2 separate regions of the Homo sapiens genome follow, and region 1 is linked to region 2. Evidence: fine-mapped expression QTL. A gene starts in region 2. The other region holds a variant in brackets. All regions are shown on one strand. Distances are between the middles of the regions. Region 1 has its middle 5.5 kb from the start of NDEL1. Region 2 holds the start of MYH10 (myosin heavy chain 10).

What was found. PIP is the estimated chance that this variant, and not a neighbour inherited with it, causes the effect. A credible set is the group of variants that fine-mapping cannot tell apart.
Region 1: its variant is the best candidate, but not a certain one, in a credible set for the expression of MYH10 in sigmoid colon (GTEx, PIP 0.79).

The regions. Positions count from the first base shown.
Region 1 is chr17:8,428,229-8,432,616 of GRCh38, forward strand. It overlaps a transcript of NDEL1 not described here. Among named protein-coding and RNA genes, the nearest start is that of NDEL1, 5.5 kb to the right of the region's middle. The variant C/T (reference allele first, on the strand shown) is at 2,455.
Region 2 is chr17:8,628,892-8,633,279 of GRCh38, forward strand. MYH10 (myosin heavy chain 10) reads right to left here and starts at 1,834. Exons shown (of 43, transcript NM_001256012.3): 1 at 1,763-1,834. RefSeq lists enhancers at 207-985, 986-1,763, 1,764-2,541, 3,240-3,534 and a silencer at 2,026-2,705.

The DNA of each region.
Region 1 (4,388 bases), 200 kb before region 2:
CTGGTCCTCAGCAGGCACTAAACTCCTTGCTAATGAATGAAAGACTTTTCTCTCTATATAAAACCACTTCTCGCCTCAAGGCTCAAGTGTGTGTGGTGTGTGTGTGTGTGTGTGTGTGTGTGTGTGTGTGTGTATTTTTTTTTTTTTTTTTTCCGAGACAGAGTCTCATTCTGTTGCCCAGGCTGGAGTGTAGTGGTGTGACCTTGGCTCACTGCAACCTCCGCCTCCCAGGTTCAAGCAATTCTCCTGCCTCAGCCTCCCGAGTAGCTGGGATTACAGGCATGTGCCACCACACCCGGCTACTTTTTGTATTTTTAGTAGACATGGGGTTTCACCATACTGGCCAGGCTGGTCTCGAACTCCTGACCTCGTGATCTGACCACCCTGGCCTCCCAAAGTGCTGGGATTATAGGTGTGAGCCCCCATGCCTGGCCCCAAGTGTATATTTTTAAGATTTTTGTTTTTTTGAGATGGAGTCTCTTTCACCCAGGCCAGACTGCAGTGGCATGATCTCGGCTCACTGCAAGCTCCGCCTCCCAGGTTCACACCATTCTCCTGCCTCAGCCTCCCGAGTAGCTGGGACTACGGGCTCCTGCCACCACGCCCGGCTAATTTTTTGTATTTTTAGTAGAGACGGGGTTTCACCGTGTTAGCCAAGATGGTCTCGATCTCCTGACCTTGTGATCTGCCTGCCTTGGCCTCCCAAAGTGCTGGGATTACAGGCATGAGCCACCGCGCCCGGCCTATTTTTAAGATTTTAAAAACACATTATTATTAATATTATTTAATTACAAAAGCAAAGGATATTGCATTAGGGATTATAGACGCTATGGCCTGGGTTTAAGATTTAGGCTAGAGAAAAGGCATAGTTGCCTATGACCCAAATCTTAGTTCCTTTGTAACCTATATCATCTAAGTTCAGCCTTTCATACCAGCGAAAATCTCTGTCTATGGTGACTTTTTTCAGGATTTGGGGTATTTTCCAGAATGTTCTGTCAGTCTTGCCTTTGAAGTTATAGCCACCAGACCATTGGTTCATTCTTTCACTTTCGTTGAAGCATATTAAATGAGTGTTTGCTAAGTGCCTGTTGCTGGGGATATATTAAGACAATCAACACTGTCCCTACACTCAGTGAGTTTTGGTTTCTTGGGGGAGATTGGACATCTCTGTAACCAAAAGGCCATGTTTAATAAGTCTCTTGTGAACTGTGTAGAGCTCCATGTGAGCTCAGAGGAAGGAGTGCTCACTTTGGGACTTTGAGTATCAGGGAAGGCTTCCTGGAGGAGCTAGCATATGAGTGAGACTTCAAAAGGCAGAGGAGAAGGTGGGTTGGCCAAGCCTAGGCAGCAGCTGCAGTGTAAAGGGCAGGGGAAGTCAACAAGATAGGCCCATAGAGGAAGGGAATCATCTATTTGGGGGACCATGCTGGTGGGTCTGGCCAGACCTAGAGAGGTGATCCATAGGATATAGACCGTAGAAGTGGGCTGGAGTTGCTTTGGGAAGGCCTTGAGTATGAGACTACTTTGTTCCTTATCACAAAGGTAACAAGATGCCAAAACAAGTTTTGGAGGCAGGGATGCTCTGCATACAGTGAGATTTTAGAAAGATTATTCTTATGGTTATGTGTGGACTGCTGGGCTGAAACAAGAAGAAATTCGAGGGAGAGAAGTTTGGGGAGAGAGGGACAGACAAATAAGAAACTTTGGATTATGGGCGATGTGGGAAGAAAGTACTGAAATATGACTAGATTTACTTGAGTTTAGGAAGGGAAAGTCTTTGGGCTTTGGTGACCACATGCGTGAGATGCAAGCTGGGGAGGGAAATGATTAGGGGGATTTGATGAGTGCCTTGTGCTTCACTGACTGGAATGATGGCACCATTGGCAGAAACATGAAAATTGTTTTGGAAATTTCTGTTGGGGCAAAGGAAAATCTGTTTGGGGTTTCGGCATGTAGAGCTGGAGGTGGTGGTGGGACATCTGGTGGACATATCTGCCAGACCATTAGCAACTGGCCAGTCAGTGGGTGTCCCTTGCCCAGCTAGATCTATACCCTTAGAGATTAGCAAAAAATGCTGGCCAAAGGAATAGAGAGAGATTAGGTTGAAGCTGATTTTGAGATGTCTTGCTCACCTGATTCAGTAGAGTTAAGTATGCCCCATCTCGTCAGAATTTCCACAGTGGGCCTGTGTGCATTACATATCACCTTCTGTGAGTGTGTGATGTGGCCGAAGTCCAGCATCTTTACTAGCTAGGGTTCGGGCTTGTACCCAGATCTCTCTTAGGGTAGCCGGTCAACCTCCACCCTTCCCAGTGGTGGAATCTGGCCTCTGTTTCCTGAATCTCAGAGTTTGTGACAGGAGAGATGTTGGGATCCTCATGCATGCTCTCAGGGACTGTGACATTAACCTCTTTGGCTCAATCCAAGAAAGACCTTGTACTGGGACCCATGCCT[C/T]GGCAAACCCCTTCCTAATGATTTATAAAGGCAGAGGGTAGGGCAGCCCTCACTCACCTTTTTTACCACCACAAGGGCTGGTTTTATAACTTCTGTTCCCTTTCGGGGCTGATTTCCATCTTCCTTTCCACTTTATTTTTTCTGGATTTGGTATATTGGAAGCAGGGGCTGGGGCAAAGGTTGCTGATGGTTAATTGCCATGCCCAGCCCCTGGGCCCATCTCCCAGGGAGAAAGCTCAACCACAAGGGGGAAGGAATTACATCAGTTTGGGCCCTTCGGCACCTCTTAGAATCCTGCCAGGCAAAGCCCGTTCATTAAGATAAGGCCAATAGTCCAGTCCTGACAAACACCAGTTTTGGGTCCAGGCCGCGTGGGAGGGGTGGCAGCTTGGAAGATGATGCCAACATTTTCCGAGGGGCCTGGCCTGCCATTAGATGACTCAGTGCGTTTCCCAGCACCTCAGCCAGGAGGCAGGGAGAGAGCCGCAGCCCTTATTAATTTTTTTCCTCTTGGGATAGGACTGTTTTGTCTTGGCACCAGGTCCACAGGAAAGCCTTCATTCATCCCCTCCCTGTCTGTGATCTCATCAGCCAGAGCACAGCTTCACCCAGGGAAGCAGAGCCCCAGAGCCTGAACGAGCTGTACCAGTCCATTGTCCCAGGCCACTGGCCTTGAAGTAAGACCTACTTGAGTTTAAGCCCTAGCTCCTCTGGGTCTCAGTTTACAATATGTACAATGGAAGCAATAATCACAGCCTCACAGGCTCATTGTGAGGACTGAGGGAGGGAAAGCATGTAAAGCACTTAGCACAGTGCTCTAGCCCAATACATGGTAGTAATTGCTAATACTCCCCCTTCTTGAGTAGCAATATAATAGTTGTTAATAGTGTGTTTTCTGGAGAGTTAGACAATTCGAACAGGGTGGGTTTGAGGCTTGAGGCCTCATCTTTCTAGTTGAGAGACTTTGGGAAACTTCATCTTGCTGAGTCTGTTTCCTCATTTAAAAAATGGGAATAACACTACCTATCTCATGGGATTACTGTGAGGATGAAATTAAGCAGACCAAGTGTTTAGCACAGTTGCCAGTGCATACAAGAGAACTTCGGAAAGTTCATAGAAAAATGGAATTAAAAGATAAAATTAAAAGATATAAACTTTATTTCTCAACGTAAGCTCCCTCAAGGTCAAGACACCTTTTTTTTTTTTTTTGAAACAGGCTTGCTCTGTCACCCAGTGGCATGATCTTGGCTCACTGCAACTTCCACCTCCCAGGTTCAAGCGGTTCTCAAGCTTCACCCACCTGAGTAGCTGGGATTACAGGCACATGCCATCACATTCAGCTAATTTTTCTATATTTTTAGTAGAGACGGGGTTTCACCATGTTGGCCAGGCTAGTCTTGGACTCCTGGCCTCAAGTGATCTACCCGCCCCAGGTCTCCCAAAGTGCTGAGATTACAGGTGTGAGCCACTGTGCCCAGCCAAGGTCAGGATACTTTCGTAACCATGATATCAGCCATTTATTTAGTACATCCCTAAAGAATTGAGGATCTGGGGATTTTAAGCATGTTAATGCAGTCTTTTTTACATTATTAACTGAAGAAAAATGGCTACCCTTTAAAGAGATATATATATATATTTATATATAAATATATATATTATATATAAATATAAATATAAATATATATATATTTAATGGCAGGCCAATATATATATATTTTTTGAGACAGAGTCTCGCTCTGTTGCCCAGGCTGGAGTGTAGTGGCGCGATCTCGGCTCACTGCAAGCTCCGCCTCCCGGGTTCATGCCATTCTCCTGCCTCAGCCTCCCAAGTAGCTGGGACTACAGGCGTCCACCACTACACCCAGCTAATTTTTTGGATTTTTAGTAGAGACGGGTTTTCACCGTGTTAGCCAGGATGGTCTCGATCTCCTGAC
Region 2 (4,388 bases):
CCAAATGAAAAGCCAGGCTCGCAGGGGTCACATCCTTCTGCTGCCAAAGCTCGTGCTATATCGCACAATTACACCATATGCTTTCTCCAGATAAGGACGGGGAAGAACTGAATTTAAGATGCAGAAGTAAGGAGATGCATAAAATGGCCACTTTTCCAGAACCCGAGACAGGCAGGGCATACTTAAACATCAAAAGCAAGGGACTCAAAGAATAATTAATAAAGGCAGATTGATGAAGGAGATAAAACAATAAATAGATTATAAAGTTTTCCAGAGTGAGATACTATCAAGAATAATTAAACCTGACTCAAAGAATCCTCAGTTTCAACGTTAAAAAACAAAATCTCAGCAAAGCCAAAGTATTATGTTTGGTATTACATTATTCAGCGAAAACAGCAGTCTTTGTTTCATCTGCAGTCTGCATCTACCCCGCCTGCTTTCCCCTACCCCACCCCAGCCCACCCCACCCCCTTCCATCCACCGCAGTGATCTTGAAGGGAGCTGCAGAGGCCCTAAAGAAACAGAGATAACGGCTGTAGGCAGAGGCCACGTTATCCAAACCTCACCAGCCCGGTCTGACCCGCCGAGTCGCCAACCTCCTTCCTAAGGCCCTAGTTCCAAACAGGCCTGGCTGGGGGCCTCCCGCTTCCCAGGGCCGCATCCGCCCACCACAGGCCCACAAAGCCCCCACAAATGCCAGGACTCCGCGGCTTCAACTTCCCTCCGAACCAATTCCAGTCCGATTTTATGGGATCAGGGTGTGACCCCCAACTGCAGAAGGCAATGAAGAGACTGCGGCGAGCCATTCCCAGCTCGCTTACACAATAAAGGGATCCCGAGGCGAGTGCTGACCCTCCCCCCGGCCGTCCTGCTGCAGCGCGCCCCGCCACATTTCCCGCCTCGCCCCCTCAAACCGCCTGGGCCTCGCAGGGCGTCCACCCCCGGCCTAGGCGCTCCACGGAGGGCGCGGCAGGACGCCCTCCTCCCGCGCTCCTTCCCCGGCGCCGGCGGAGTCCGACCCTCCCCACGCCCGCGGCCGGCTCCGGAGCCCCTCACCCGCCGCGCGCTTCCCCGGCCGCGCAGAGCCAATGCCCTCCTGTCCCTCCACCCACGGGTCGGGCGCGCGCCGCCCGCCTTCCAAGCCCATGGTGAACCCCTCTGGTGCTGCGGGGGACCGGTCGCGCCAGGCCTAACCCACCCAGCAACCCACGCAGGGGCCCTTCCTGCCCAGCGCCCCCCCACCCTACCGCCGGGACTGCGCTTTCCAGCCCCGCTTAGAATCCCCTCTCTTCCTGGGAGGCAGACACTGGCTCGCGGGGCACGCCGAGACCTCCGCCGGGACACTAGCCCCTCGACCTCGCGCCCCCAGGGATCCCACCCACCGAGAACCTGGTCCTCACGTCCCCACCCCCAGATCTCCATCCCCCAGCCCCCCAGGGGTCGCCCTCCTGCACACCCAGGCCCTGACCCCCGCGGGTTTCACAAGGACTTCATTCCCCGCTCCTCCGGGAGTCTCTCCATCTCCACCCACTGAGGTCCCAGTGCCCCCAGCCCAGGACCCTGCTCAAACTAACCTAAGGTCCCCGCAGCACAAACCCTACAGCTCAGAAGCCCCTCTGTCTTCCCCAGCTCCCGCTTCGGTCCCCCGTTCCTGTCCTCCAGAGCCGCCCGGGACCCCTCAGCCCAGGAGCCATTCCTCCCTCCACAAACTGTCCCCCAGCCCTGGGCCGTGCACTCGGACCCGGGTAGCCGCACCTCTCACCTTCAGCCGAAGATGGTGGCGCGGGCGCACGTCCCCAGCCGCGACCACAGATCCAGCGCCTCAGTCCCAAACCCACCGCTGCCTCCGCCGGGCTCCTTTAGCACTGCTGCTCGGGGCTGCCCCACCCACCCCTACCCTCATTGGGCCAGCTCCACGCCCATCACCGCCGCCCCCAGACCCACTGGTTGGTTTGCGCGCCCATCTCCAAGGGAAGACGTTAGCAACCCGAACGAAGCTACCTTCCCGAGTCCGGCTCCCTCCACCCACCTGGAATGACGCTCATTGGCTCCCGCTCCCAGCCCAGGCCACAGAGGCCCCAATCTCATGGGCTGGCTCTTACGCCCGTCATAGGCTCCGGGAGGTGCGGCCGGGGCAGTGGCGCGGGATTGGCTGGCTCGTGCGTAGATGGACAGCTGAGGCTGGCTGAACGCCCGGCGATCCCGCGAGGCTGCGGGTGCGGGCCCCGCGGCGGCCGGCGCGCTGCGCTGACATTGGCTGTGCGGGCCGCGGGGCAGGTGGGCCGCGGCAGGAGGCTGGCGCTCTGACTGCAGACTCCTCGTCCTAGCGTCAGGCAGCCGCCGCAGCCGCAGCACATTCGAGCGCCCGGTCGCCCCCTGTGCTTGCGGCAGCCGGCATGTACCGCAGCGGGACGGGGTTCCACCGCGGAGTCGCGGGCCCTCAGCGTTGCCTGCAGGGGCGGGGCGGAGCGCGGTCCAGAGTCCTGACGTCACCCCCGGGGCTGCGCGGGGTTGGGGCCGCGGCGCTGCGACTCACCTGCAGTGGGGGAAGGAACGCGGGGGAGGGCGCTGCTCCGCCCATGCGCACAGGGTTTGGCCCGGGACCCGGCTGCGCTCCACGCTGCGGCCACTGTCCCGACCCCGGCCCCAGGCGGACTCTGCCGGGATCGGCCGAGCGCCAGGCGCAGGACACGGTCCTCCAAGGTCGCAGTTTTGGTGTTAGCGGGGTGAGAGGCTCTCCTGCCCAGCCTCCAGGCAAGGCTGAGATTCCAGAAGAATGAGAAGAGAACCGACCTTGGAGAGAAAACTTGGAAGAAACTTTATTCACCTCATTCATTCACTCGTTCAGTCGCTCCTTCATTCATTCATCAGAGCTCCCTACGTGAAGGGCTATGAGAGGTTCTTAAGAATATAAGGCTGGATTCCTGTAGCGCTGTCATATCCCCTAGGGCTTATGAAAACGTTGGAGACTGAAAAACAGTGGCCCCAAAATAACGAAAGGAAACTGGAAAAATCAAAGTAAATAAAATTTAATGAAATGTCTGCAGAATCTAGGCAACTGCAACAAAACTCTTGCATAATTATATATAAATATAATAAAGTCTAAATCACATGAACAAAATGAATTATTCATACAAAACCTGAAAGTCAAGATCATAAAAATTCACAGCAAGATGCAGTTATTAATCAGTTATTAATGTAGGCTATGGGAGCATTTTAATACATGTGATAATGATGTGTTTGCCTAAGCCTAGGAAACGTCTAGTCTGGCAAAAAGTGAATTAAGCAAAAAACAAGGCAGGAAGTCCTAAGGAAGGGTTGGTGGAATTCAGAAGAGGCTGGAAGGCAGCTGAGTGCAGAGTCCTTCCTGGGGAAGTCCGAACCAGGCTCTGTTTTGTCCTTTGTCCTGCTGCATCTGGTCCCCCACCCCCACCTGCCTGCTGGGGTACTACCCCGTGTCCAGGTGTCTTGTGACTTGGCTCTGTGAAGAGGTCTGTCCTTCTAATGCAGTCTGCACATGGAGTACAAATTAACTTTCCAAAATATATGAATGATATTCCTCTAATGAATTTTAAAATGTGTTTAGAGAAGACCAAAGACTCCCTCTCTGAGGCCTGAGTCTCCACTTTGTCAGCCACCGAAGTCATTTCTCAGTGCAATGTTCTATGCTTAGTGCATCCACTCGCGAATAACACTGTAAGCCACAGAGTCAGTAGTTTCTCATAATTCAAAAACTTTTGCATATATATGTGTATATATATGTATATATGTATATATATGTGTGTGTATATATATTTTTTTGTTTTGTTTTGTTTGTTTCTTTGAGATGGAGTCTCGCTCTGTTACCAGGCTGGAGTGAACTGGCATGTTCTCAGCTCACTGCAATCTTCGCCTCCCGGGTTCAAGTGATTCTCCTGCCTCAGCCTCCCTAGTAACTGGGACTACAGGCGCGCGCCACCACGGCCAGCTAATTTTTGTATTTTTAGTAGAGAGAGGGTTTCACCATGTTGGCCAGGATGTTGGCCTCGATCTCTTGACCTCGTGATCCGCCCGACCCGGCCCCTGAAAATGCTGGGATTACAGGCATGAGCCACCGTGCCCGGCCAACTTTCACATAATTTTAACACAAACTCAATGGACCATCAGAAGAGGAGGGCAGGAAGTTCACCAGAAGGAAATACCATAAAGACATTAGTCTTGATGAGAAATTAATAATAAAGAGAATATCCCCAAATGTATCTTTCCCCCTGGTGGCTCTTTGGCACTTGGGCCCTACATGTCCAACTGCCTGGATGAGAGGGGGACTGCAAAAGCAGAAGGTACCAAACCTATTTTCTTCTATCACCCTTTCCCACTACTCAAACTCTCTCTTCCCAACTTCTTTGTGA